Linked DNA regions of Homo sapiens: regions 1, 2, 3, 5, 6 and 7 are each linked to region 4. The links come from fine-mapping of genetic effects on gene expression. A gene starts in region 4. Each other region holds a variant in brackets. All regions are shown on one strand. Distances are from middle to middle. Region 1 overlaps GARS1 (glycyl-tRNA synthetase 1). Region 2 has its middle 13 kb from the start of GGCT. Region 3 has its middle 9.5 kb from the start of CRHR2. Region 4 holds the start of GARS1-DT (GARS1 divergent transcript). Region 5 has its middle 2.5 kb from the start of GARS1. Region 6 has its middle 19 kb from the start of MTURN. Region 7 overlaps GARS1 (glycyl-tRNA synthetase 1).

Evidence for each region.
Region 1: its variant is fine-mapped to the expression of GARS1-DT in whole blood (TOPMed, PIP above 0.99).
Region 2: its variant is fine-mapped to the expression of GARS1-DT in whole blood (TOPMed, PIP above 0.99).
Region 3: its variant is fine-mapped to the expression of GARS1-DT in whole blood (TOPMed, PIP above 0.99).
Region 5: its variant is fine-mapped to the expression of GARS1-DT in whole blood (TOPMed, PIP above 0.99).
Region 6: its variant is fine-mapped to the expression of GARS1-DT in left ventricle (GTEx, PIP 0.95).
Region 7: its variant is fine-mapped to the expression of GARS1-DT in nasal epithelium (TOPMed, PIP 0.96).

Annotation. Positions count from the first base shown.
Region 1 is chr7:30,610,276-30,614,607 of GRCh38, forward strand. It overlaps GARS1 (glycyl-tRNA synthetase 1), which reads left to right. Exons shown (of 17, transcript NM_002047.4): 8 at 1,821-1,970. Among named protein-coding and RNA genes, the nearest start is that of GARS1, 18 kb to the left of the region's middle. The variant G/A (reference allele first, on the strand shown) is at 2,047.
Region 2 is chr7:30,515,684-30,520,015 of GRCh38, forward strand. No RefSeq gene overlaps it. Among named protein-coding and RNA genes, the nearest start is that of GGCT, 13 kb to the left of the region's middle. The variant T/G (reference allele first, on the strand shown) is at 2,586.
Region 3 is chr7:30,689,756-30,694,087 of GRCh38, forward strand. It overlaps a transcript of CRHR2 not described here. Among named protein-coding and RNA genes, the nearest start is that of CRHR2, 9.5 kb to the left of the region's middle. The variant A/G (reference allele first, on the strand shown) is at 1,706.
Region 4 is chr7:30,575,698-30,580,029 of GRCh38, forward strand. GARS1-DT (GARS1 divergent transcript) reads right to left here and starts at 2,082. Exons shown (of 7, transcript NR_038889.1): 1 at 1,952-2,082; 2 at 867-1,013.
Region 5 is chr7:30,590,258-30,594,589 of GRCh38, forward strand. No RefSeq gene overlaps it. Among named protein-coding and RNA genes, the nearest start is that of GARS1, 2.5 kb to the right of the region's middle. RefSeq lists enhancers at 4,076-4,332, 4,320-4,332. The variant C/T (reference allele first, on the strand shown) is at 1,860.
Region 6 is chr7:30,113,751-30,118,082 of GRCh38, forward strand. It overlaps a transcript of PLEKHA8 not described here. Among named protein-coding and RNA genes, the nearest start is that of MTURN, 19 kb to the right of the region's middle. The variant CAT/C (reference allele first, on the strand shown) is at 1,783.
Region 7 is chr7:30,605,129-30,609,460 of GRCh38, forward strand. All of the region lies in intron 6 of GARS1 (glycyl-tRNA synthetase 1), which reads left to right. Among named protein-coding and RNA genes, the nearest start is that of GARS1, 12 kb to the left of the region's middle. The variant T/C (reference allele first, on the strand shown) is at 2,173.

The DNA of each region.
Region 1 (4,332 bases), 35 kb after region 4:
CAGCATAGGTATAGCCTGTTGATTTGAAAGATGTGGTTTTCATGGATAAAGAATATCTGGTTAGTTTACAGTATGATTCAGAATTGGAATCTTTATCTTCTGATTCCTTGTCCACTGTTTAACAGACTTAGCCAGTGTTCCATTTCATAGCTTTAGATATTTTTCTATGATAGGGTAAGAGAGTAAGTTTTTCCTACATGAGCTAGATAGATCGTGTTTCCCAGAGTAGGGACTGAAGAATAAGAAAAATTAATTGTGACAAAATGTGTTGCAGTTAATTATTCTAATGAGACATCAGGTTGATTTGGAATATTTCATGGAAAGAGGCCAGTGGCAAGCCTTTCATTTTGGCCATATGTACAGAGTCATAAAATGAGACATAACCTGTGACCCAGACATTCCATTTCTGGGAATTGATCTAAGGAAATAATTCAGAAGGAAAGGAAATTATACTTAGAAGAAGTATATAAATTGAAAGTAGAAATAACCTATTCAGTAATTTGAGAGTGGTTAAACAAATTATGGTAAAGTGGATTAGTTTGGGATAATATTCTGTCACTATTAAATGTGAGAAATTTGTGCCATTATTTAGAAAATGGGAAGTATAAAATAGGTAATACATGATTTTATACATACTAACTGTAAATATATGTATAAACTTTACTTACATTTGGATGAAATCTGGAAAGGGCCATAAAAATCAAAAGAGTTGGTCTGTTAAGTAAGAAGAGGGTACAATTTTAGGGTTTTTAGCCCTTGGTTTTAAAGTTATTTTAGTAAAATACTTATTCTGAAGTAGGCCATTGGGAGCGTTTCCTTAGTGGATGTTTTGCACAGAATATCTTCTAGGAAATTGAGAGGGCAGTGGTTATAGTAGTGTATTTGCTTGACTATATCTTTAAAATACAGAGAAATGCGGAAGCCTCTGGTTGAAAATATAAAATACTGCAGATAATAAAATGATTTGAAAAACATTGAAAATTACCTGGCTTGGTGAGGTGATAGTGATAAGTGAGTGCTGATGTTAAATGTGAGCCTATACTGATTTCTTTTTAGCCCCTCAGTTAAGTTTTAATATGTGGGTTAACAGGGCTAAACATAGGCATGGGTATTATTTTCCAAAGGACCTAAGATTGTCATCTGCCTCCATGTACATGATGACTTAGAAGACATCAGGGGTTTAAGGGGCACTATGGGAGAGGTGGTGTTTTTTGTTTGTTTGTTTTGAGATGGAGTTTCGCTCTTGTTGCCCAGGCTGGAGTGCAATGGCGTGATCTCGGCTCACTGCAACCTCTGCCTCCCAGGTTCAAGCGATTCTCTTGCCTCAGCCTCCTGAGTAGCTGGGATTACAGGCATGTGCCACCACGCCTGGCTAATTTTGTGTTTTTAGTAGAGACAGGGTTTCTCCATGTTGGTCAGGCTGATCTCGAACTCCCAACCTCAGGTGATCCGCCCACTTCAGCCTCCCAAAGTGCTGGGATTACAGGTGTGAGCGACTGCGCGCGGCCTGAGGTGGTGTTTTTAAATTTATTTTTATTTCTGCTTTTTGAGAAGTGGGGTTTTGACTCACTGGTGTAATTAAATGAAATGGCATTGCCAAAGTAGTACTGCCACACTAATTACTTAATACATTTTCTAATACGTGCTATGAAAATGTTTGCTACCGAGGAAAATATTTCTAAAACTTCATTTTAGGGCCTGTTCAACTTTGTTGTGAAAATGGTATATTTAGGACTTTTAGGATTTGTATCTAGAATTTCAGGATTGTTGGAAAACATAATTTCTTTCTTTGTAACAGACTGACTTACTTAAATTTATAGGTACTTGAGACCAGAAACTGCACAGGGGATTTTCTTGAATTTCAAACGACTTTTGGAGTTCAACCAAGGAAAGTTGCCTTTTGCTGCTGCCCAGATTGGAAATTCTTTTAGAAATGAGATCTCCCCTCGATCTGGACTGATCAGAGTCAGGTACTGCTCAGGTTACTCTTACAAATTAGTGAATGACCTTGGCATTGCATTGAAAATGAAAGCTTGCTGTTTTGAA[G/A]CAATTCTGCTTCATAATCCTGATTATGAATTTATTTTTGTTTTCTCCAAAAATCATGTTTTACATTTGGAATCTCTAAATGTAATCTCCAGGATGACAGGCAGTTTTGAGTGACAAAAGTGAACTTGAAGGGAAAGGAAGGAGGGTGGAGACTGTCTTAAGAGTCTCACCTGCTCCAAAATTACCTTTTTCCTTGTTCATCGTATATTTTGAGGATGGTAATATCTTGATTGTCTAAACCAAGGCAATACTGGCAATGGTGATGTGTATAAAAGGGTGGGGTCGGGTGGGGGTAGGGTGAAAGTTGTGGCAGGAGGATTGTTCTAGATATCTAGGGCAGACAACATTGCTGAAGTTGGGGTGAGGATGTATCAGTAACCAACTGGAGTTCTGGAAACAACCTCCGTCCAGGTATTTGGGGGGCCTATATGACAGAAAGGCCAGCAAGCAAGCTTACCCTCATCACTCACTTGGCCTCTATTCAAATAGCCTACTTTTGTCTGATCTATCCAGGGATGTGTGGGAAGGCATATTGGGGCTGGTGAGTTCTATATTTCTTTAGAAATTTATTATGACTCAGCTGTTTATGACTTAAGTTTTTTGTGATTTCTATACGTTATTCCTGGTATCATCTCTTAGAGTAATACATTCCATATAAAATACGAGGTGTAGCTAAACATAACTTTCTAAGGCCCCAAAGTGTTTTCCCAGCCCCAGCGCCCACCCATTTCCTGTCTTCTCTTCTTACTCACTGTAATTACAGACTTGGGTCATAACATAGCCCAGTCACTGACTCTGGATCAAAGCATCCACAGCACCTGCCTCATCTTGTTAGTTCCCATGATGCCATCTGGGAGAAGATGCCTATGTTCTGCGCAAACTGTATCTCTAGGCCCTACAGGTTTACGGTTTAGGAAGGAGGGACTTACAGAGGAAAGAATGTGCCCAACTTAGAGAAAGTTGGGGGAATGACCCCTCTGAGCTTTCATGTAAAAAGAGGAGGTCATCAGAAACTTTAGCCAGGTATGATGGCAATGACAAATTTGTCAGATTTGAGTCTTTGTTTTATTTCCCAGTGTCTGAGTGTTTTTGTTTTTTTGTTTTTCACCGTTTCAATATCTAGCAAGTATGCCTTCCCAAACTGAGGAAGCTGCGTAAGGCTGACCTTGTCTGAAGCCAGTGTTACGAAGAGGGTTTACACAGAGTAGCTATGGGAAGATTATTGAGAAGGACTGAGAAGTAAGGCAGTGTCTGGGGCCTGTGCAGTAAAAAAGTGGTGAGTAGGGAAACCAGCTTGGAACTTGGGAGTGATCCCAGGGGTTAACTGGTAGAAAGGCTCTGGGGCTTCTCAACAGTGGATTCTTTGGTCATTTTCACTTCAAAGTGTCATGTCTGAATTCTGGCTAGTTTTGTTATGTCCCTTGCAAGTTCCTGACCAGAAGTCCACTAGTTTTTTCATGAGTCAGCATCCTCCTGGCTTTTGTTCCATGGTAGGACTAGGATTGGTTTATTTAGTGTTCTGATTCTTCTTGATGGCAGAGTTCTCTGGTGATTAATCTTTGCATAGCTGTATTTCCTTTTGTCCTTTTGTTAGTTTAGAGGTATTAGATTGTTCATATGAAGATTTTTCTAAAATTTTATTTTATTTTGATTGACTTATCTGTCTTCCTAGCCTGTGTGTATTTTAGTTCTCTACAGTTTCAGGTACAGTTGCTGAACTGAGATACAGTTACTCAGAATTCTGATGATTCCTGCCTCCTATCTATGAGCTGAGATTATTGATGAGTAAATTTTGTATGATTTGTATGATTTCAAGTCACACAGTGTGGTGCTTTGATATGCTTATACATTGTGAAATGATTACCACAGTCAAGCTAATTAACATAATTATCACCTCACATAGTTACTTTTTTTTTTTTTAGTGGTGAGATCTACTTAACATCTACTCTTTGAGCGGATTTCAGGTATACAGTGAATCATTAACTATAGACACAGTGCTGAGATTTGTGACAGAACAGATGGAAAGACTTTGGCAGCAGCATTTTGGAGATTCTAGGCAGGGCCCGTAATTTATCCTGTCCCACATTGTAGATGTTCAGTTGCTGTCAGCCCAATTATAAGCTATGTGAGGACAAACACCATGTTTGTTTCTCTCACATTTATATGGGCACAGAAGATGTTTCCTAGTTGTTGAAAGACAACTAAAACATAGGTGCAGCAGGACCAAATAAGAGACACTATTAAAAAATAAAATTTAAAAATTAAACCTCTTGGCCGGGCGCAGTG
Region 2 (4,332 bases), 60 kb before region 4:
CTTTGCCCTTTGAGATGTCAGTGAATAAAGAACCAGAATTTTCCCAGTCTGTTTTAGGAGAAGGCCACAAGTGTTCTAGGACAATAACCTGCTAGATCCCACAGCCAACCTTAATAGTCACTTTTGAAAAGTCCTGGAAATACAACAATTCAGCGATCTCTATGTCATTTACCATAGCTATACTGGAATGAGATGTACCGATCCCAAGATTCACTACTGTTAAAACCTGACAGACTGCATCAGAGTTAATACATTCATTCCCTTAGCTTATGTAGTCATGGTATTTATAACACTTTAAATGCAGTTGAAATTCAAATGTAAAAGGAAAATTTTGCTTCATGTGTCTGTTGCCAACAAGAGCACTAGTACCATTTTAAATGAGAATACAGCTTTACTTAAATGAAAATCCCAATGTTTCTTTTGGGTGTAGACCTCATTCTTTCCTTCATAGAAAGAACTGTAAACTCAGTAAATTCTTAATCTCTTGTATAATAATCGGATGAGAGCCAAGCATTTTCTTAAAGATCCTCTAAAAAGAATGGCTTTGGAATGACTAGAAAACATTTGTGGAGTGTGGGAGCTATGCTTGCATTATTTGCTTAATTCATGTGCTTGGATGTTGTGCTTTCAGTCTATTCAACAATATTTAATCAATTATTAAATTTTCTTAGAGACATACACTTAAATGAAGCATTTTAATTGAGTATTTTTTAAAAACTCCGGGCTGTGTGTAGTGGCTCAGGCCTATAATCCTGGCACTTTAGGAGGCCGAGGCAGAAGGATTACTTGAGGAGTTTGACACCAGCCTGGGCAAATGGCAAGACCCCACCTATACAAAATTAAAAATTAGCCAAGCATGGTGATGCATGCCTGTAGTCCCACCCAGCTACTCAGGGGCCTAAGGTATGAAAGGTGTGAGGATTGTTTGAGCCCAGGAGTTTGAGGCTGTAGTGAGCTATGATTGCACCACTCCACCTTAGCCTGGGCGACAGAGCAAGACCCTGCCTCTAAAAAAGAAAAGAAAAGAAAACAAACAAACACAAAAAAACCTCTGAGTGTTTAAAAATCTTTCCAGAATAGCTGATCTGCTGATGTCAGCCTTTTAAAAAATATTATTACTGTCCAGGCACAGTGGCTCATGCCCGTAATCCCAGCACTTTGAGAGACCGAGGCAGGTGGATCACTTGAGGATGGGAGTTCGAGACCAGCCTAACCAACATAGCAAAACCCCCCCTCTACTAAAACTTAAAAATAAAATAAAATAATTTCTTTCTTCACATGAATACAACCCTTCCCAATAACAGAGCTGCTGAAAGCCATCTTTATTATGGTCTTTGTTAAACTTTGTTGACTAAAAAGACAACAGGAACTCTGTATACCTGAATAACAGAAACTCAAATGACTCACTGAAAATGAACAGTTACTCATGGCAGAAATAGGTATATGTAGAGGAGAAACTTGCTTCAGTAAGTTACTGGAATCTTCCAGAGGGTAATGCATTTTATATGCATCTTTAAAAAACGTATTAAAAATGGGGCCGGGTGTGGTGGCTCACACATGTAATCCCAGCACTTTGGGAGGCCGAGGCAGGTGGATCACGAGGTCAGGAGATCGAGACCATCCTGGCTAACACAGTGAAACCCTGTCTCTACTAAAAATATCAAAAATTAGCCGGGCATGGTGGGGGGCGCCTGTAGTCCCAGCTACTAGGGAGGCTGAGGCAGGAGAATGGCGGGAATCCGGGAGGCAGAGCTTGCAGCGAGCCGAGATTGCGCCACTGCACTCCAGCCTGGGTGACAGAACGAGACTCCATCTCTGAAAAAACAAAACAAAACAACAACAACAACAAAAGGTATTAAAAATGATGTCTCAAGCTAGCTAAGTCATACGAACTATTCAATTTGCCTTAGGAAGCCACAAAATTGTAGTGGCAAGATGAATTCTCTAACCCAGCAATTCCACACCTAGGTGTATCCCCAAACAAATTGGAAACAAAATACTGGGACAAGAGTCTTCATAGCAGCACTATTCACAATGGTCCAAAGGTGAAAACAAATGACCGTCAATGGGTGAATGGACAAACAAATGTGGTCTATCCATACAATGGAACGTCATGCAGCCATAAAGAGAATCGAAGCACAGGTGTATGCCACAATGTAGATGAAACTAAAAAGCATGCTGCTATTAGAAAGAAACCAGACATGAAAGGTCACATACTGGTTGATTAAATTTATATGAAATATGCAGAATAGGTAGACCCATAGGAATAGAAAGCTGATTGGTAGTTACTAGGGGCTAGGGGAAAGAGGGAATAGGAAATTAACTACTCATCAGGTACAGAGTTTTATTTTGGGGAGATGGAATGCTTTAATACTAGATAGAAGTGGTGGATGCACAACAATGTGAATGGACTACATGCCACTGAATTGTTCACATTAAAATCGTTAATTTTATGTTATGTGAATTTCACCTTTAAAAAAAAATGAGAAACCTAGCCAGGCGCAGTGGCTCACTCCGGTAACCCCAGCACTTTGGGAGGCTCAGGCAAATGGATTGCTTGAGCTCAGGACTTCAAGACCAGCCTG[T/G]GCAACATGGCAAAACCCAGTCTCTACAAAAAATACAAAACAATGAACCAGGCATGGTAATGCATGCCTGTAGTTCCAGCTACTTGGGAGGCTGAGACAGGAGGATCACCAGAGCCCAGGTGATCGAGGCTGTGGTGAGCAGTGATCGCACCACTGCACTCCAGCCTGGGTGATAGAGTGACACCCTGTCTCAAAACAAAAACAAAAACAAAGCAAAACAAAAAATCCCACACCAAAACAATTTGGGGTGTTCAAGAATAACAATTATACTCAAATAGCAACATTTCCCAAAATATGATCTGTGGGCCACTGGGGCCACTAGGTGATTCTCAAACAAGGCTTCTGTGGTCCAGTGACCTGGAAAACACTGCATTCCATATTTCCACTTAGAGATTCACAATGCACATCGCCTTATGAAGGCAGCTGAGAATGCCTGTAGCAAGGGAACCTGTGGAGCTCTGTTTAATCCTGAGTTTCCAAAACCTCCTGGGTCACAGAACCCCTTTGATGTAGACAGCGTTTTACTGAGAGTGTGGGAAATGCTGCTCTGTGATGATACAGTGACTTTGATTTGTTTAGGATGATCGTTCAGTTCTTGAAGAATCATATTCAATAAAATCCTAAATTATCCAGAAAATTGAAGATAAGCAATAGTGTGTTATCCAGAAAGGGAAGCATTCCAAATCTTTACCTTGTTCTGGTTTGACACTGACTGGGTTTGTGGGTGATAACCTTTCATTACAGGATTGATTTATACAAATATTGCATGGCTTTGCTGGTTAAACACCTGATAATCAGTTTGAAACTGCAGGGCTATAAAAATATCCATCAACCTCTATTAAATGCAGTGAGGGTTGCAGCCTGGCAAAAAATAAGGATCAGACTGTAAGGCTGAGAGCAAATGTGATAGAGCCCCAAATTATTGATTAAACTAGAAGAAAATTGGGTGCCTTGGCTTTCTATTTCCCATCATTCTTACTTTGTTCCTTTTTGTCTCTTTTACGATTGTCAAAGCAGTTTACGGGTTTAATAGAACAGGTTAGACAACTTCACGGAAAAGTACATAATGGGCATCAATAATAGTGGCAGGCCTTGTTAGACCAGTAGTATCTTGACACAAAATGCTTGCTCTAACTCATTAAAACATTTTAGTAAGTGTCAGTATTAATACATGTTTCTTGCTGCAAATAAAATTTATTTCCAAATTCCAATTTAGAGAAATCTGGTGGCCTAGAAAATACTATTCCCTGATGTAATGTGATTTTCCATGCTGTCATTCAATTGGGAATTTTCTCAATATTTCAAATCACTAGTGAATTGATAATAACAAATTATATTGCTGCATTTGGCCATTACAAGTCCTTTTGCCATTTTCGTTTAGTGGGTATGGTAGCTGATGGTCCTCTGAACTGCTCTAAAGAGGCAAATAACAGTAAACACTGGTCTGCTATGGAACAGGGGGTGTTTTCTGGGTTCTCAGCCAGGTGTCAAAGAGGAAGGTTTAGAGGTAATCTGAAGACCATTTTTTAGGAAGAATATCTTCCACCTGGCCTAGAAAATACAAGAAATTAAAAGGTTCTTTCAGGAAGAAACTTAAAATACTTTTTTTCTTGAATTAATGTCATCTACTTTGTAAAAAATAATCTCTTTTGTAGAGTTATTTTGCATCTAACTTTGACCACCTATCACTGTCTTGGAAACAAACACAAAAACAATTAAAATCCAGGGAAATATTGATAAATATTTA
Region 3 (4,332 bases), 110 kb after region 4:
CAGAAGGAAGAGGAGGCAAATGCATGATTTAACTTTGTTTCCCTGTCACACAGGTAAGCAGGCACTTGCAACGAAGAGCATTAGGTTAATACGTGAGAGAAGTGCCTAACCTGGATTCAGGAAGACAGGGAAGGCTTATTGGGAGAGGTAGCATTTTGGGGCACCCAGAAAGATGAGTAGGGACAAAAGAAGGGACCATAGGGCCAGCTTAGGCACTCACTAGGGAAGATATGTGATTGTTGCAATAATGGCAATTCCATCCAAAAGATAGAAAAGCACCCAGGATCCCGTCTCCTAAAAAATCATCAGAGTGGGTGCTGGATGTGCACGGATAAAGTAGATGTGGGCATGTGCACCCGTGAAGGGACCATCTTCTGGTGGGAAAGATGGATAGGATGTACAGTTTTACGGCATGTACGATTTACTGAGGAGGGCAGGGGTAGCATCACAGAAGAGGTCATGCTAATGTGGGTTTTGAAGGGTGAGTAGGAGCTTGCCAAGCTGATCAGGCCAGGAAGGGCATTCTAGTTAGAGAGCACAGCATGTGCAAAGGCAGAGAGGCTGGAAAATGCATGGTGTATGACTGAACGAGAGCAATTCACTCTAAATTCTAACGCTTGGCCCCATTCCTCCCAAGACCACTCCTTTTCTTGCTCTATGGTCAGCGTGTGTGTGTGTGAGTACATGCACACACGTGTGTGACTTTTGTGCCCCTCCCAACCCTGAGATTCCTGATTCTGGGATTCCAGAAGACACTGCTCCATCAGTGTGCAGCCCCTTCTCTTCCTGCTGCCTGTCAGATGTACTCTTCCTGGCAGCTGGGTCAATGTTTGCCCCAGGATGTCCCCAGGGGCCAGAGCCCAAAAGCCCTCAAACATCACGTTCTCCACATTGGGCTCAGTCCATTTCCTGTGCTGGGACTGGAAGCTGCATGCTCAGCCCTCACCACGTCAGCCTGGAGCTTCTAATGAATGACCCCACCTGCTCAGACAGGAGAGTGCTGCCCCCTGCACCCCTCCCGGAAGCCTAGGGTGAGGCAGACACCACTTGGAGGCACTCACTGCACCTGTGTTCTGCCAAACTCCCACCCCACGAAGTGAGGTAGAGAGGGAAATGCAGGGGAGCAGGTGTGTGTGTTGTGTGTGTGTCTCGGCACTGTGGGGGCCTCCTGAGCTGTCAGCCAGGAGTTCTGGCCTCTTGGCCTGCAGGACAAACACTGGGGGCCATGGTCTTGCTGTCCACATATCAAGGGAGCTGCTGAGAGTTCCTCAGCTCCAGCTTCTCGGGCATCAGGAAGACCTTGCTGACCCCGTGAGCCACTGCCAGGGGTTGGGGGGCTGGGGAGGGGAGGGAACACTCCAGACACTGAGACCTTCCAGGAAGAATTCTCAGGCCATACTTTTGGCTGGGTCTGGGGACAGTGAGGGCTCTAGGTCTGACCCATCACCCTCTTTATGGCGCCCATCGCCCTTGTTTGAGAAGCAGCTAGTAATGCCCTCTGTGGGAGGGTTCCCAGTGAATCCCAGCCTCTGGAGGTCAGGGTACGGGCAACCCAGAGGCATGCAGTGTCCACGGTGCGCCCTTAGGCAGATGCAGCCATTCCATCTCAGATGTTAGTGCCTTCTCTCAAAGCCCCTGAGCTGTGACATTTGTAGCCCCATCACTGAGGTGATCTCCTGTTTGACTTTACCGGGGTTTCTGACAC[A/G]TGCTTTGAACCCATGATGGGGTCAGGGCATCCTCCCCCAGGACTCAGGCAATGTGGGATGGTCCTTGCCTTGGATTCTGTGGTCTCAGGCTGTGGCCATCTTCTGGCTGAGCAAGCACTTTGTGGGGAGTGGGCACAGGGTTACCATACTCTGCAACTGATGCTTGCTCTTTGGGTCTGGGCAAAATTTGGTACAGGCATATCAGAAGTAATTTTTGGAGTAATCCCAGATCCTGGCTTCATCTCCTATAACTTCTCTGCTGGCCCCAAAAGCTGACACAGCCAAAGATACTCATTCTCTTCAAGGGGCTTGTTTGGGTGGATTTGACTCAGTCCGAAGTCGTAATCTACCATGCAGGTGTCAATTTTGGGCAGAGCCCCTAGTGGTGGTGGTGATGGGTGGGCAGGGAGGAGGAGGAAAGAGAGGCTGCTGTCCTCAGAAAACACATGGTCCAGGAAAGTCAGGGACAGACATATCTTGGATAATCCCATTCCAAGGACTTGAGAAGAGCTGTCAGAGTGGGTAGAGTGCACACATCCCAGTGTGCAGAGTTCTGGGGATGCTGGGCTTAGCTGTGTGGCCTTGGCAAGCCACTTAAGTTCTCTGAGCCTTGATCTCCTCATCTTTAAAATGGGGATAATACAAATCCCACAGGATTTTGTGTGCATTCAACAAATTACTGTAGGTCAAGAGCCTGGCACGTAGAATGCGCACGCTGAATGGTGACTCTTGGCAAGGACTTTAGGAGGGGGCTAGTTAGAGAGCTCAGTGATGGGAGGTCGAGTCCCCTCATCGGGACTCCCAAGGCCCAGCTCAAGCTCTTCCTGCCCAGAAAAGCTTCCTGGAAACCCTGTGCCCCCCTTCCCCAGCTCTCCAGTCAGTGTGGGACTCCGTTTGCCCTCAGCAGCTTTCCCTCGGACAATGGGCCCCTGAAGGTGCAGCCTCCATCTCCCTCACTGAGCTCGCCCCTCAGCGGTGCTCAGTGAATGCTCATTGAGGAAACCGAAGGCCGTTCGGCGAACTGGACATTGGAGCGGAATCTAAAAGGATGGAAGGACTTGGGCCATAGGAACAGCAGTAAGAAGAGGAGAAAGTGACCCAGGTAGAAGCTGAGAAAGCAAACCCTCAGAGGCAGGCGAGCCCAGGGCCCACACAGGAAACTGCACCATCTGGTATGGAGGTGCCAAGAGAAGAAGAGGGGAGACAGGCAGGAAGGGGAGGCTTCTTTCACGTGAAGTCAGCACTTACTCTAGTGCTAGACCTGCCTCTAAATGCCCTACAGAAGACAGCGGATTGAATCCTCACGGCAGTCTCTGAGGTAGCTGCAAATAACCCCATTTCACAGATGAGGCTGCTGAGGCCCAGGGAAGCGAAGTCACCCACCAAAGGTCCCACTTCAGGTAAGGGGCAGAGGCAAGATTCAAGCCCAGTCAGTTGGTAGGTTATGGCTTGGTCAGGTTCCCATGGGAAGAGCTGATCCTGGGTGAGGAAGTGAAGACCTGTGGGTCACGGATGCTGAGAGGGCCCCAGCCCCAGACTGGGTGGCTGTGGGGCTCAGGAGGCCGCTCAGGTGAGAAGCCCCTCTCTTGCCACAGAGGAACAGGGGCCTTGGAGGCAGACACCTGGGTCACGGGAGGCAGACCCAGCCAGTGGGCAGGACCTTGCACAAGAGAGATGAGGAATTATAAATATTAGGTCTTAGCCCCCAGTTCCTGACACAGAATCCCTAAAACCTTTGGAATTTCCTGGGTGACAGGAGTGTCGTTAGTTCTAATGAGGTGACTCTTGGTGGGCTGCCAAATGCAGCTGGTTACCAGAGAGACCAAGCCATGGTTAGAAGGTTGGAGCTTTCAGCACCTTCCTACACCTTGGGGAAGGGAGACGGGCTGGAGATTGGGTTAATATGCCTCTGTAATGGAGCCTCCGTGAAACCCCTCAAAGGTGGGATTGGGGGCTTCTGGTTGGTGACCACCTGGTGGTGCGGGGAGGGTGGCATCCAGTGAGGGCACGGTGCTCTGCGCCCTCCCCACAGCTTGGCCTGTGTGCCTCTCCATCTGGCTGTTCAGCTATATCCTTTGTGATAGACTTTAAAATAAACCTGTAAATAGAAATGTTTCCTTGAGTTTTGCAAAATGTTATAGCACACTATTGAACCCAAAGAGAGGGTCATGGGAACTCTTGATTTATATAGCCTGTCGGTTGGGAGAATGAGAAGCCCTGTCTTGCGACTGGCATCTGAATTGGGGGCAGTCTTGTGGGACTGAGGCTTTACCTGTGGAGGCTGATGCCAACTCCAGGAAGATAGCATCAGAATTGAATTGAATTGGAGGACACCCAGTTGGGGTCCCCAGAGAAGTGGAGAATTGCTTGGGGCAGAAAATCCACACTTTTGGTGTCAGAGGTGTGTAAGAGTGTAGAGAAGAAATGGAATGTTTTCCTGTTTCCATTTTTCTTTCTTCTGAGGGGAACGTCTTGGACACCTGTGCTGATTAGCTCTTGGCTGTTCTAGGGCAGAGAGCTCTCCACCATGCACACCCCAGCCCATGAGACTGACTGTAGGCTGTGGGAGCACAGGGTCCACATCTGTGTCCCCAGTCCCCAGTTCAGAGCCTGGCACACAGCAGGT
Region 4 (4,332 bases):
TGGGTCTTTATCACTTTAGAGGCTTTGGGGTAACCCAAACTAGGGGATTTATTTCCTTTAAAAGAAGCTTAGCAACTTCATGAGCCTTCTTTGTTCTCATAGAGCAAGCTTCAACCCAGCCAGTAAAAGTATCTATTACTACTACCAAAAACTTGTATACTTTGCACACTGGCATATGGGTGAAGTCTAATTGCCAGTCTTCCCCTTTAACTTTAGCCAATATGTTCACACACAGAATCTCTTTTACAATTAATTTTTCATAAGCCTTCCACAACTTGTTCAAACCTTTTAGATTATTCCTATCTCACTTAAAACCATCCTTTCACCCTCTAAACTTAGGCAAGAAATCCACATTCCCATGCTTTTTACCAAAGGTACATTATCCTTTTCTTACATGAATTCTTTTCATAACTTACCCAGACCATCTACAAAATGCTTGGACTTTCTGAGTTTTCCTAAACATCTTTCTTTTTAAACAACCAGTCATTTTACGTTAGGACAAGAATTTATCGTACAAGATCTTTTCTCCTACAAAGCCACCATCTCTACAATCTTCCCTCACAAAAACATATCTTCATATATATAACTTTCTTCACATCTCTCCCCTACTTACTGGTTCCTTACTACCTTGTTTCATAAATAACTCTTTTTTTTAAAGTCCATAATTTGAATTAACTTTCAGATAACCTCCAAACTACACAAAATAATTCTTTCTCACCAATAACACATTTTTTGGCATATTTTGTATACAGAATTATATATTAACTATAATTCATATCCTTATGTATTAGTCTGTTTTCATGCTGCTGATAAAGACATACTTAAGACTGGGCAATTTACAAAAGAAAGAGGTTTATTGGACTTACATTTCCACATGCTGGGAAGGCCTCACAATCATGGTGGAAGGCAAGGAAGAGCAAATCACATCTTATGTGGATGGCAGCAGGCAAAAGGAGAGCTTGTGCAGGGCAACTCCCATTTTCAAAACCATCAGATCTCATGAGACCCATTCGCTATCATGAGAACAGCATAATTCAATCATCTCTCACCCACTGGATCCCTCCCCACAACACACGGTAATTATGGGAGTTATAAGAAGAGATTTGGGTGGGGATGCAAAGCCAAACCATATCATCTTAGTAACCTTAAATTTTAGTGAAACCTTAGGAAGCAAAAAATCCTAAACTATCAGATATTAGCATTTTATAGATGAGAATAATTCCACAATTTTTGGAAACATATTCCTCCCTATCATAACCCTTTCTTAATTGGAAATGACTGAGATATCCAATGGGCATCAAAAATACTTTTAAGATTTTAAATTACACAAAATTTACCTAATCATTCATCCCATTTACATGTACTTAAGTCTTTCATTTTTAACAGTTTATCTAGATTACTTCTGAAAACTGAGATATTAGACACCATCATTTAAAGTTAGTTATTTATTTGTTAACCATTTTTAATAGCCAATGAACATTATGTGTTCACCTAAATAAGAACCTCACAGTTAAATACATAGGTGTTTTTGCCAATAACCCAGAAGATTTAGCTAACAATATTAAATTAGTCTCATTTGTCAAAGAAGCCACATAAACTAAGGCCATTTTGTTTTGGCTGGGTTAATAGCTTTATAATCTTCTATGCCAAATGCTGACACTTCAACATTTCTAGCAAAGACAAATATAAAACCCAGACAAAAATGTATGCTGACAATTCTGAAGATATTTCTATTTTCATTTTACCAATAATTTTAAAGCCAGCTATTTAATGAAGATTTACTTAAGTCACATGAACTTGAAAATTGCTTGGACTTATTTATTTAATTTATGAGTGCTTTTTTATTTATAAGCTGATTTGGTTGACACAACATATAACAATAAGTGTACATACAAATAAACACATCTAGACATGTATACACACACACAAACGAAGATCCAATAGCTTTTACCTTGGAACTCTAGCCATGAGATATCAATACAAGCTCACAGGTTTTACATGGTTACACTTTGTTTGCTCCAATAGGTAATCCAGTGAAGGCTGTGAACCAAACATTTTTAAAGCAGTTCCGGTGGCAGTTTGATTTTTAAAGGCCAAACCTCCTCAGACTCCAAAGACACTGGAGCCAAATAGCACCAAAGGAGAGCACCATATGCTGACTAGGCCTGACCCTTCTTAGGACAGCAGCACCAAAGCCTGGATACATGCAACGTCATCCTGCTTTCCCATTCAACAGCAAACTCCAGATTCCAAACAATACTGGGGCCAAGTATTATTGCAAAAGAATATCAAATGTTTCCTCCTTAGATTATCAGGGTCAAATTCATTTCAATGGTTGAGGATGCAGCCAAGTGGGAAGTCAGGTGGAATAAATGGAGTGTTTCCTGTAGTGGTCTGCAAGAGAGAGACAATTCTAAGGAGGCCTTAGTACTAGACCTGAGAACCTTTGCCTAGGGCATCCCCTTTGGAGAGGCTGAGGTCTGGAGTTGGATCCCCTAGGCATCCCCCTTTGAGGTCCAGTCTAAAAGTGTCAGACATCTCTGACCTTAGGTGGGCACCAGTGTTGCTTTGTATGTTTTCCCTCCAGAGGCAATGGCCTAATATGAGCTTTTCTCTTGTCCCTGGATGAAGGTCTCAGCTTCTAGCTTCCTACCAATTTAGATAGGCCATATCTTCCTGCATTCCTTGCAAGACTAAGGAGGTTCCCGAACACTGCAGAGTTAACGGTACCAAGGCTAGTGGGATATTCCCCATGAAGAAATGGTGCAGAGGTTATATAAAAGATTGGGTTTATATTGGGTATATAAAAGATATATAGAATTTCTACGGGGTTCAGGGCAAGCAAACTGATGCCAAAGCAATGACCACCAAGCTCCCTTAAGTGGAGGTCCAAGATGTAGAATGTGTTCTAAAGCTTGTGGGTCCCAAAGGTCCTCAGCCAGTCAATAGATTCAGTAGGAGAAGGGAGGTCAAAATATCTAAGAGATATTATCTTTTGTCCTTACAGGCCAACTTTATGGGAGAATTTAGCTTAAGAAAGAGGGTTTAAGTCGCCTGAAATGTGTGTGAGTTCACCCTGGACGAGCTTCTGCTGCCAATTGCATCACAGGTAGGGATCAGGGACTATAACTCAAAAAGATACAAAAGAGTCCTTCCGCCTTCTGGGCAGGAGAGCTATCCCAGGTTCACTCCTTGGCCTTCAGGTAACAGTAGAGAGTGGTCCCGGCCAGTTTCCCTCAATTACCAAGAAGCTACTAGGAAACGGCCACTGAAAGACTGAAAAAAGGAAAAGGACTCAGGTCCCTCACCTGAATTGGGCAGTGGTGGTCAGGCACTTTCACACAGAAACCTTTCAGTTTCACCAGAGAGTGGCCCTGTTAGAAACCTGTGGTTGCCTCTGTGCTTAGGCACTGTCCACCGAGGGTTCCAAGCTGGAAAGGGAAAAAGAGACAGAGAAAAGAGTTCCCCTGTAAGGAGCAGAGAGGAAAAGGGAAATCAAGAGAAGAAAAATAAATCCCAAACTTTGGGCTTACCTCCTGGCTGGCTCGCCAATATATGTTACTGGTGGAGGGTCTTGACTATGAGTCATCCAGGTTCTTGGCATTTTGAACAAGGAACTGGACAAAATGCACAAACCAAGCAATGAAAGAATGAAGCAAAGAACGCACAGATTTATTTAAATGAAAGTACACTCCACAGACTGGGATTGGGCTCCAGCAAGGAGCTCAAGAGGCCGGTTACAGAATTTCCTGGAGTTTAAATACCCTCTAGAAGTTTTCCATTGGTTACTTGGTTATACCCTATGTAAGTGAAGGAGTGGCCCACGACAAGTCTGATTGGTTGTGGGAGGGGACCAATCAGAGGTACTTTCCATTTTTATCTGTGAGGCAGTGCAAAGACAGTAGCCTCTGATACTTTTGTTACTTGGGTGTGGAGAGGTGGGGTTTTCCTTGTGATTCAGTTCTAGGAAGTCAGGGCAAATTGGCCTTAGATTCCCTGCCTCCAGACCCTATTCTTCTACCTCACAAGCATGTCATGAATGGTCTGGAGTAAATCATAAGCGGATTTATGGAAAAAAAAGCTTTTAGATAATCAAGTTGTCTATAATTAAAGGGAAATTATTTTTAATGGTCTTTCTAGGAATTGGGTTTTGGTATTTTCTAAAAACCATTTATATACTGAAGAATCTTAGCACTTTGGGAGGCCAAGGCAGGTGGCTCACATGGTCACAGGTTCAAGACCAGCCTGGCCAAGATGGTGAAACCCCGTCTCTACTAAAAATACAAAAATTAGCCAGGCGTGGTGGCAGACGCCTGTAATCCCAGCTACTCG
Region 5 (4,332 bases), 15 kb after region 4:
TGTTCATTTTTCATGAACATACAGGCAAAAATCTTTATCAAGATGTTAGTAAATAAAATCCAGCAGAATATAAGAAAGACAAAACCAAGTTGAATTTGTTAGCATTACACTAAATGGAGAAACATTGAACACTTTTCCCTCTAATATCAGGAACAAGGCAAGATGTTCATTCACTGCTTCTATTCAATATTGTGCAAGATGACCTAGACTACGCAACCACACAAGTAAAAGAAAAAGGCATAAATATTGGAAAGAAAGAAGTAAAACTGATTCTATTTACAAAGTATATGCATATTAATACAGAAAATCCTAAGGAATCGGCCGGGCGCGGTGGCTCACGCCTGTAATCCCAGCACTTTGGGAGGCCGAGGCGGGTGGATCATGAGGTCAGGAGATCGAGACCATCCTGGCTAACAAGGTGAAACCCCGTCTCTACTAAAAATACAAAAAATTAGCCGGGCGCGGTGGCGGGCGCCTGTAGTCCCAGCTACTCGGGAGGCTGAGGCAGGAGAATGGCGTGAACCCGGGAAGCGGAGCTTGCAGTGAGCCGAGATTGCGCCACTGCAGTCCGCAGTCCGGCCTGGGCGACAGAGCGAGACTCCGTCTCAAAAAAAAAAGAAAATCCTAAGGAATCTACAACCCCCGCCCCTACAAAACAAATAATAGCACTAATAAGTGAAAGTCTCAATGTCACTATACAAAATCAATTATATTTCTCTACATTAACAGCAAATCAATGGAAAATAAAATAACATTCACAAGACTCAAAGAATAAAATACTTAGGAATATATTTATCAAAATGCATTCAGTGCTTTAAACTATGAATTCTCCCCAAATTAAACTACAGGTTCACAATTCCAGCAGGTATTTTTACAAAGTTGATAAGTCAATTCTAAAATTTATATAGAAATAGAAAGAACCTGGAATAGAAAAACAATTTTGAAAAAGAAGAAAGGGTAGACAATATACATTATTTGACTTCAGGAATTATCCTCAAGCAATAGTCATCAAGGAAGTGTGATACTAGCATAAAGATTGATAGATAAATGGATCATTAGAACAGAATAGAGACCCCAGATATAGGTCCACCTTATATGGTGAACTTATTTTTGACAAAGGCACTAGAGCTGATCAATGGCAGTAATTTTTTGTAAGCCCTACTTTTTTCCAACAAATGATGCTGTAGCAACTGGATATCTATATGGGAAGAATGAACTTTGACTCTTACCTAAAACTATACACAAAAGTTAATTCAAGATGCATCATAGACCTAAACATAAAACTACTAAAATTTTGGACAAAAATATGGGTGAATATCTGAGAGTAGGCAAAGATTTTTTAGAACCCAGAAAAAAAACAAATTGATAAATTAGACTTCATCAAAATTAAAAATTTCTGCTTATCAAAACCATCATTAACAAACAGGCAAGCCACAGACTGGAAGAAAATATTTATGAAACATGTACCTAGCAAAGGACTGTATCCAGCATATCTAAATCTCCTATAATTCAATATTAAAAAGCAAAGACAAAAAATGTGGATGTTTCACAAAAGAAGAGGTACAAATGACCACTAAGCACATGAAAACACAATCAACTCTATTAATCACCAGGAAAATGCATACAAGTCACAATGAGATACAACTATTAGAATAGCTAAAATCTGGAAGGCCGGCAACATCAAATGTTAACAAGGATGTGGAGCAACTAGAACTCTTATATATTGCTCTTAAGAACATAAAATAATACGACCACATTGGAAAAACTTGTGACAATCTAATAAAATTAAATATGCATCTATTGTTTGACTCAGTAATTCCGCACCTAGATATTTACCCAAGAGAAATGAAAACATATAG[C/T]TACAAAAAAAGATGTATGAGAATGTTCACAGCAGCATTATTCATAATGGTCTACAATATGAAACAACCCAAATGTCTATCAACTAGTGAATAAATTAATAAATTATAGTATATTCACACAATGGGATACTTCAGAGCAAAAAAGGGCAAGTTTCTGATATGTGAAACAATATGGATTAATCTCTCACACATTATGGTCAATTAAAGACATCAGACACAGAGTACATATTACATTATTTCATTTATACAACAGTCTAGATCTAAGAGGAAAATAAATGAGAATAGTGATCGCCTGGTTGTGGAGGGTGGGATGACCGGGATGACATGCAAGGGAACTTTGTGGAGTCAGGGGAAAATGTTCTTTATCTTGCTTGGTGTTGGGGTTACAAAAGGATATTGCTTTGTCGAAACCCATTGAACTATACATTTTTGTTCATTTTAATGTATGCAAAATTTATTTCCCTCAAAGAAATGAACTTTAATAAAGCAAGAAAAATATATGATCATACATACACAATACTAGGGCCTCTTGCAGGGCACTTAAAGAGCCCAACAGAGAAAGGGGCTAAACTCACTTGAAGCTTCATTAGCTATGTAGAAAATCTGCCTCTGCCCCCAGCTCACATTCTGGCCCAACACTCACTTAGTTGTGTGACCATGGACAAGCTGTTTGATATCTCAGTCCCTTGAATCCCACATGTGAAAATTCTGAATAACTATAGAACCTATCTCACTAAATTGGTGAATAAATTCCATGAGATAAATTAGAACTAACTGGTACATAGTGAGTGCTCAACAAACATAAACTATTATCATTATTGTGCAGACACAGTTTTCAAAAGAAAACTGTTTGGGAAATTCTTCCAAGGGCCATGAAGAGCCTACTGAAGTGTCCTGAGAAGAGAAGGGACACAGTCAGATTTGCCTTTCAGAAATAATGACTGGGCCGAGTGCAGTGGCTCACACCTGTAATCCCAGCACTTTGGAAGGCTGAGGCGGGCGGATCACGAGGTCAGGAGTTCGAGACCAGCATGACCAACATGGTGAAACCTCGTCTCTACTAAAAATAAAAAAATTAGCTGGGTGTGGTGGCGCACGCCTGTAATCCCAGCTACTCAGGAGGCTGAGGCAGGAGAATCGCCTGAACCCGGGAGGCGGAGGTTGCAGTGAGCCAAGATCACGCCACTGCACTCCAGCCTGGGTGAAAGAGCGAGACTCCGTCTGGAAAAAAAAAGAAAAAGAAAAAAGAAAGAAAGAATGACTGAAGCAGCAGTGGGGAGGATGAATTGGTCGGGGAGGAGGGAAGAACGGATTTGGAGTCCTTTCAGGACTGTCCTAACATGAAAATGGATGAGACATTATTGATCTAAGGAATTTTTTAGAAATAAAATAGTTTTATTCAAAGGATATAGAATTTCAACATTTTAATAAAAATCTAAATAAAAATAAAAGTAAAACTTAAAATGATTTTTCACATTTAAAGATATTAAAATAAATTCAAAATTGCCTAGTAAAATAAAAGCCAAATAAATTATAATTAATATCAAATCTTGAAATAAAAGTGTTTAAAAATATAATTGTTCAATATTGCAGAAGGTTCTTAAGCAACCCACCCTGCTCATGTTGAATTGTAAGTACTTCTCCAGAACTGCACACTGGAACGGGAAGAGAAATAACATGGACTTTCACACCATTAGGAAAGGAGACTTCATTATACTGAGCCCGTCTACTCCTGCACACTCCTGGGGTGGGATTGTGGGTCACAGGGAGACGTACGTGCATACTGCCGAAGAGCTCCCAAGTGGCTGGCTGCACCAGTTAACACTCCCCTGAGCAGTGTAGGGGAGTCTCAGAGGGTCACTTGGCATTTTCCATCATTTTCATTTTAGCCATTTTTGCAGGTGTGCGCAATGCTGTTTTTATAACCAACACATCATTTTTCTCTTCCTTTCCTGGAGGGGGAACCCAGCTTTTCTAGGCCCTCCACCCTTTGGGCAGGAGGAACTGGGTGTGTGGGGCGGGGGGAAGCCATCTCTGGGTGGTTGGTCAGCTGGGGCCTAACCACAGGAGGCAGATAGACTGAGGCTATGCCAAGCAGAAAGACTTATCAGGCACCTCTTGCCTTTCCTCATCTCTGCCGGTTCAAATCCTGCTCGCCCCGCAAGGGCAGATTGGAATTTACCTTCTCCAGAAAGCCTGGGGTGACTCTATCCCCTCACTCCTCCTCCCCCGTTCGCCAGCTTTTGTCTTGACATCGGCGGACCAAGAATGTGTGACTCTGGGCAAATCATTAACCTCTCTGGGCCTATTTCCTTATCTGGGGAACATCTGCACTTGAGCAACAGAAGTCTAAGATCCCTATCTGATTTGATGTTTTGCGACCCTTTTAAGGCGCAGGGCGCGAAAGAACAGAAACAGAAGTGTCCGTTCAAGTAGGTCGGCCGGGGTGTCACTCGTATAAAAACCTATGCTT
Region 6 (4,332 bases), 460 kb before region 4:
TCACTTCATCATATTGCTGCACTTAGCACAATTTCCTCAGATGGGACTTCTAATTTACTAATTCTCCCTTCAACTTCTTTTCAGCTTACAAACTTTTAGTAGCTAGTTCTCATTTCTACACATTCTAATTTGTTTCTGTTCAAAATATTACTTTTTTTTTTTTTTTTTGAGACAGAGTCTCACCAATGCCCAGGCTGGAATGCAGGGGCACAATCTCAGCTCACTGCAACCTCTGCCTCCCAGGTTCAAGTGATTATCCTGCCTCACCCTCCCCAGTAGCTGAGATTACAGGTGCACACCACCATGACTGGCTAATTTTTGTATTTTTAATAGAGACAGGGTTTTGCCATGTTGGCCAGGCTGGTCTTGAACTCCTGACCTCATGTTATCTGCCCACCTCAGTCCCCCAAAGTGCTGGGATTACAGGAGTGAGACACACCTGCCCTACTTTTCTTTTTTTTGTTACAATAGTAGCTAAAACTTACTCTGTGCCAAGCATATGTGTACTCTTCTAATCACTTTACATATATTAACACACTTAATCCTTACAATAACCCATTGATATAGATACCATTAGTATACCTACTTTACAGATGAGGGACTTGAGGCACAGAAATATTAAGTGACACACCCAAGGTCACCCAGGTGGTGGTAGGTGATAGTGACGAGATTTGAACCCAGCACTTTAGCTTCAGTTTCTGCGCTCTTAGCTACCGTGCAACAGTGCCTCTCATGAGGTTTGTTCCGTTCTTGGTGTTTTAATTACATCTTTTAGGGCTTTAATAATTTTAAGCATGTTTATTTTACATTCCCTTTCCAATTGTCATTCTATTATATGAAGTTTTAGGGTATCTTTTAGTGCTATTTATTGTGTCTGCTGACTTTTAAGTCAGCAGGATTTTGTCCTCCTGCATTTCATTATTTGTGTTTGTGAGCTTATCTTTAAAGAAGGCTGTTTTTCTGTGAGAATCCCCGTGGCCTGGGTTGTAAATGTGTCCCTCAAGAGCAGTTTTGCATTTGCCACAGAAAGATCACCAGATGTGGAACTCTTTTTTGGCTGTTTATCATTTTGGGAGTCATTTATCATCATGGTTCCTGGACCATCTGCAAATTTGAACCTCCAAATTTGAGGTAGAAAAAGACCCTGAGAATTCATTTCTCAGAGGACATTTTTCCCCATCCAGACAGAGGCATATAAATTCTTTTTTGTCTCTCCGTGCCAGTGCATCGATGGTTCTCCTAATCTACTCTTTTCAGTGTGGGTGTAGCCTTTTAAAAACTGCTGCAGTTTTTTAACTAAGCCCAGCTGTGGCAGCATCCCACATCCTTACCACTCACTTCTCTCTTTGTTACTGACACACCTGGAGACTTCCTTTCTCTGTTGCCAGTTCATTCATGCATTTAAAATAATTTTTGCTGTATTTTGTCAAGCATTTTAAGGCAGTATGGCAGGAGAGTTTTCAGACTGTTTCCCCACATCTTCTTTTAAGAAAGTTAGGAGTCTCATTCCACCCTTTAAAAAAAGTATGATGTTAATTATTTTCTCTTGGTAAGCCTGATTTAAAAATTGGGGACATCCATAGAAGTGTTAGGAGGAAAATGCAAACTACTCATTGTACCACTACCTAAAAATGGCCATGTTTTAAATGTTTTCTCCTTTTTGTATTATATGTGTTTAGATATACATATATACATGTATATATGTATGCATATGTATACACACATGTATACGTGTATGTAGACATATGTATACATATGTACACATACACGTATACATGTAGA[CAT/C]ATGTACACATGCACGTATACATGTAGACATATGTATACATGCACGTATACATGTAGACATGTATACATACATTTATACATGCACACATACATGTACACATACATGCACACATGTACACATACATGTATACGTGTATACATACGCACATACATGCATACACGTATACATGTATACATACGCGCATGCATGCATACACGTATACATGTATACATACGTGCACATACATGTATACACGTATGCATGCATACATACGTGCACATACATGTATACACGCATGCATGTATACATGCGTGCACATACATGTATACACGTATGCATACATACGTGCACATACATGTAGGCACGCATACATGCGTATACATGCATGTATACATGCATGCGTGCGTGTACATACATGTATACATGCACACATACGCATACATGCATGCATACATGTGCATGCATGCATGTATGCATACGCATACATACGCATACATACGCATACATACGTATACATACATGTGCGCATACGCATACATACGTATGCATACGTATACATGTATACATACGCATACATACGTATACATACGCATACATACACGTATACATGTGTATACATATGTATACATACGCATACATACACGTATACATGTGTATACATATGTATACATACGCATACATACACGTATACATGTATACATATGTATATACGTATACATGTATGCGTATACATGTACACGTATACATGCATACATGTATGTATGTATACATGTATGTATTCATACATGTATACATATATACATACACATATGTGTGTATGTATATATGTACTATATAACTTGATTCATGTGTGAATATCTGTTTACATGTGCGATTTTTCACCTAATAGTGTATTGTATTTTTCTTACATCATTAAAATTCATTAAAGAACAAACAACTGAAGAAAAACTTCTGCCTTAGAAGCTTAAGGATAAATGAGGGGCATCTTCTTGCATATATTTGATTAGCTGTTCTGCAAATCTACTCTTCTGCACCTAGCAACCTAGAAATAAAAAAGGGAATAGCTGCACTAAGAGCCCTAGAATCCTAATTAACATTGTGCCGCTGATAGATGCCTTACATTTAAAGCAAGATCATGTTGTTTCTCTCCCATATAAATGATTTTCATTGACTGTTCTGAATAACTTTATATTTCCGGTCTCCAATTTGCTGCAACTAAATCTTAGCTACTCCCCCATTCTGGCTTTCTTGTTGAAAATTGCTCTCTGAGCAAAACCTGGAATGTCTGAAGTCGTTCCCCAACACAGTTGCTAGAGATGGGCTGTGAAATAACAGAATTTAGCAGCAAGTCTCTCCACAGGCCAGTGTATAAAAAGGATCTGAAACCTAGGCTGGGAATGACAAGTATGCTAGAGGGAATGGCACTCCCCTGCCCGCCTTCCAAAAGCAGTTTGGCTTCAGGAGAGTGGGTGTGTGTTTCACTTGGTCTTGCAAATGTAGGTCTAACTTTGTCACCGCCTTTCCGTCTGCCTTCCAGCATCTGTGCCCAGTTGACGTAATGACTGTGGAAGGCAGATTGAACGTTATTAAGGAGACAGCCTGGAAATTGTGAGAGGCAGGCAGGGTCAAGGATAGAAAGCATTTTTGGGAGACTGGGGTTCTCAGCTCACAGTAATTGAGAAATCGATTCAAACTCATGCCATACAATGAAATTATATGTGTGTGTGCATTTCCTAGAAGTTACCCCATGGCCCTTCCCACTTAAGTTAGCACTATACAATGTCTTGGCCAAATGAATTTGAGTTCCAAGTTAGGTTCTTGAGACTTAAATTAGTTCCAAGTTAGTTTCTTAAAATTTGTAGTAGAAATAATAGCCTTAAAATGTAATTTATTAAAAATTAAATTTAGGGCCAGGCACGATGGTTCCTGCCTGTAAGCCTAGCACTTGGGGAGGCTGAGGTGGGAGGATTGCTTTAGCTCAGGAATTTGAGACCAGCCTGGGCAACATAGTGAGACCTTATCTCCACTAAAATAAAAAAATTAGCCAGGCATGTTGGCACACACCTGTAGTCCCAGATACTCAGGAGGCTGAGGCGAGAGGGTCACTTGAGCCCAGGAGTTCAAGGCTGCAGTGAGCCATGATCATGCCACTGTACTCCATCCAGCCTGTGTGACAGAGCAAGACCCCCCTCCAGAAAAAAATTAAAATCTTTAAAAAACAACAGTTTTGATTTACAACTGCCAGAATTTATGAGAAAAATAATTTTAAGTTTCAAAAGTTTAGTGTGCACACTAAAAAAATGAAGGCACAAAGCTTATGTTGCCAACAAGATATTAGAAACAGAAGTATAACTACACAACTCTACTTCCTGTAGATTAAAGATTGCCAAGACTTTATTCATATTTTTATTTTTTAAAAAATTTAAAAACTGAGACGTGGATTCATTTCTAACAGGGACACACAAATGTCTGATGGTGGCCCAGGAGGGCTGTCACTCAGAATCAGGCGGGTGCAGAGTGGCCTGCAGGACATGATGACCCAGCATGAGACAGGATGCATCACATCTG
Region 7 (4,332 bases), 29 kb after region 4:
GGCTGAAAGCCCATCTGTTGCTTAAGCACAGAGTAGCGTTTTCTGCACCTTAGTGTCTGACTCCTTTTCAGCTTTATGAAGCATCATTGTTTCTTTAAAAGGCCCTGATTCACCTTCTGTGGTAGGAAGACCTCTACTCCTATTATGTGGATTTAACAGCTCAGAACGAATTCTTTTGTTTCTCTTCTCTGTCTGTTTTTGTGGCCCATCTCTGGATGTTCCAGTTTTAAAAACCATTTTTAACTTGTTTATGAAAAATTCAAAACATACAAAATTTTATATGTTAAATAAAAACATAATAAACAATTATGTACCTATCACCCTGCTTCACTGTTAGATTTTTTTGTATCTATTCCCCTCTCACTTTCCTGACTTCTTTCCCCTAATTCTTTGTGTGTGGTAGGGTGGGGACAGAGCCCCACTCTGTAGCCCAGGCTGGAGTGGAGGGGCACGAACATGGCTCACTGCAGCCAGGACCTCCTGAGCTCAAGAATCCTCCTGTCTGGGCCTCCCAAAGTGCTAGGATTACACATGTGAGCCATGGTGCCCAGCCTGAATTTTTTTGAAGCAGATCTCAAACATTATTTTATTATACCTGTAAATTTTTCATTATCTATCTCTAAAAGAGAAAAATCCTTTAAAAATAAAGGATTTAAAAAATCCTTTTCAATCCTCTTACCTTGGGAAATGTTAATAATTTAATATCATCAAATATTTGATCAGTGTTCATGTTTTCTAGGCTGTCTTAAATGTTTCCAGTTTTTAAAATTTGAATTGGGATCCAGATAAAGTCTATACTTTGTGATAGGTTGATATGTTTCTTATATCTCTTCCAATCTGTATGGCCTTCCTTCATTCCCTTTTCCCTCCCCGCATTTTCATTAAAATTTTTTTCAAGAAGCTGAGTCATTTGTTCCTTACTGTTTTCTACTGTCTGGATTTGGCTAATTACGTTATTGTAGTGAGGTTACACATGTTCATCTTTTTCTCTATTAGATTTAGAAGCTTGACCAGGTATTTTTGGCGAGACATTTGGTTAAGTGGTGTTATGGACTTCTGTCCAGAGCTACATAGTACCTGGTTAGCTCTTCTGTGGGCTGTGGCCATTGATGTCCATTGTTTAGATGCATTAACTGATGAGGGGATTTCAAAATGGTGATTTTTGTCATTGTTATTCTTTTTTTTTTTTTTTTTTAGCTAGACTATTTCTATATGAAAAAACTTTCTATCAACTATTTGATTTAACTGAGACACGATTTGTAAAGAAAGGTGAGAATAAGTGCTTCATCCATTCTCCCACCCCTTGTCTTTTTAAACCTGTTTTCCATTAGTTGGTTCCCTAACATCCTTCAGAAATGCACGAGTTCCTGCCTGCCTTTTCGTTTTTTCCTCCTACTGTTGTGAACTTTAGATTCAAATATTTGATATTCAGTCAGTTGCAGTTATCTTATTGGTGGTTAAATTGTCCAGTCTTTGGTGACTAGGAGTTCTCTGCTGAGTCCTTTTGACACAGCCCTTGTAGTCTCTGAAAACTTCCTTTAATATGACAAGATATTGCCATCTCATCTTATACATTTCCTGTCCCAGACTTGGAATCAGACATTTCTCCAAGGAGCCCTGGTACTTGGTACTTATTAGTGGGGATGGTATTGATCACTAATTATAAACCTTGTCAGTGATCTGAGCTAGGAAGTTGATATTTTTTAAAAGATAAACTTTTCATGAGTTAATATAGATACTTAATAGTTAACTTAAAGTTAGGTTTATAGGGTTTTTACTATATTAATCTTAAATCTCTCTCCTTTACCCTTACCAAAAATCGCAGTTCTCAGCAACAAAACATAATGATTGATGTGCCTTATCTCCCACTGTATACGTTAACAGTCTCAGAATGACAATACCAACACCACCATCAGCAATATGAATGTTGAAAACAGTTAAAAACACTTTTATTGTTCTTTTCTTTAGGGATATGCCAGCACTGTGTAGTCTTACAGTCTGATAACTGTATTTAAAGTCACTTGGAGTCATTCTCTCTGTGTGGTTATGCCATCAGCTAGATATGCAGTTAGTCCATATATTTCATTTTATTTTCAGTATTCAGGGTTTCCTTTTTAAAAATTTGTTTTATAATCATATAGCACAATAGCAAAGACTTGGAACCAACCCAAA[T/C]GTCCATCAATGATAGACTGGATTAAGAAAATGTGGCACATATATACCATGGAATACTATGCATTCATAAAAAAGGATGAGTTCATGTCCTTTGTAGGGACATGGATGAAGCTGGAAACAATTATTCTCAGCAAACTCTGACAAGGACAGAAAACCAAACACTGCATGTTCTCACTCATAGGTGGGAATTGAACAATGAGAACACATGGACACAGGGTGGGGAACATCATACACCTGGGCCTGTCGGGGGGTGGGAGGCTGGGGGAGGGATAGCATTAGGAGAAATACCTAATGTAAATGACGAGTTGATGGGTGCAGCAAACCAACATGGCACATGTATACTTATGTATCAAACCTGCATGTTGTGCACATGTACACTAGAACTTAAAGTATAATAAAAAAGTTAAAATTTGTTTTATAATCATATAAAGCATTTTTTATACCTCTAAAGGCAAATCTAAAAAACAAGGTATATTTAGTCTACTATCTTTCTCTTCCCTTTACCTTCCGTCCTTCTGCTTCCCTGCTTCCTGAGCAGTTTTTAACTTAAAACAACTTCCTTTTTTAAAAAAATAGAATATAAACAAAGACATATAGATATTTGTATGCCCTCCTTTCTAGATAAATGGTTGCATTCCATACACACTTTTCTCCATTGTGGTTTTCTTCACATAACAAAATATTTCAGAGATTGGTCCCTCATAGTATATAGAGATTGCCTCCTTCCATTTTATAGCTACATAATTGGGCATTGTGTGGATATATTTTACATAACCAGTTGTCCACTGCTGGACATTTAGGTTATTTCCCATCTTTAACATTACAGATAATGCTGCATTGAATAATCTTGTGCTTATATCTTTTCATGTTTTTGCTATTGTGTCTTTGGGATAGATGCCTAGAAATGGGACAAAGGATAAATACAAATATAGTAATGTTAGATATTGCCAGATTCCCTTTCCCAGGGGTTTTGCTTTCTATCTGTATTGGCAGAATCTTTTTCCTCCTGATTTCTTTTTAAATTATGCCTTTTATTGGAAAACACTATATATTCTTGAATTACCTGGGAAATAGATGTTCCTCAGGCTCTTTAACTTTCTACTCTAGTAGGACCAGCTTATATTTATGGTACCCGTGTCTTGAAGTTCACTGGAACAGTTTCCTCATTGATCCAGCCTCTTGGGTAATTGTATAATGTTATTTTGTGGATTCCTCCTAGAAATTCTGTAGAAATAGAGTCTAGAAGGCTTAATATTTTAAATTGCACATTCAAATCTGGAACATGTTGTTAGTGTGAGTGGGTTGCCTTTTTATGGAGTGGAAATACCATTGGATTTATGAGGGTAGCAAATATAATTGCTCTTTATTGAGTAGTTATTATGTACCAGGTCCTGCCTGTGCTAAATACTTTACATGTTTTGTTTAATCTTCATCATATTCCTGCATAGCAAGGTAGAAGCTGTTCTCCCCTGTTCTTAGAGAGGTTAGGTAAGAACTTAATCTTTAGTCACACAACCCATAAGTGGTGTAGAGTTGGGAGATACGCCAAGGTCTTTCTGAACTCGAAGCTTCAGTTATTATGGCCATTAATTGATTTACTGAATTATTTTGTTTCTGTTAGGAAACTTTTAAGTTTTAAATACTGCTTACTATTAGATGGTTTGTCATAGTCACTTGAAATTCTTAAATTGGAGGGCATACATCATTTTACAGGATTTGGCACTGATGATCAATGTATAGAATGTGCAATACACTGGAAAATGCTGAGGTGAATAAGATACAGCTTCTGTCTTCTAGGCGCTTAATATCTAATGGGAAAGGAAAGTTCAATGCACATTTAATTACTCCATTGAGGAGAGGGTGGTGGCTATTAATAGTATATTTGCTTGACTGGATCTTTAAAATACAGAGAAATGCAGAAATGCACCTTAAATATGTTCAGAGTAGTAAAATTCAGCTTTGAAAACTTATTTAGGTAATTTCAGATTCTTGCCAACCAATAACTATTATAATTGAATAAGAGGTATTTTGCTTTATCTTTCACTTTGAAACAGTGACTATATGAGTTTTAGGTCCCAGAAGGATATTTTTTTCTCTCTTGATAAATGGAAAGTGAATAAATTGGTTATGGTTTTAATGTGGGTGTCCTGAAGGTTAGGT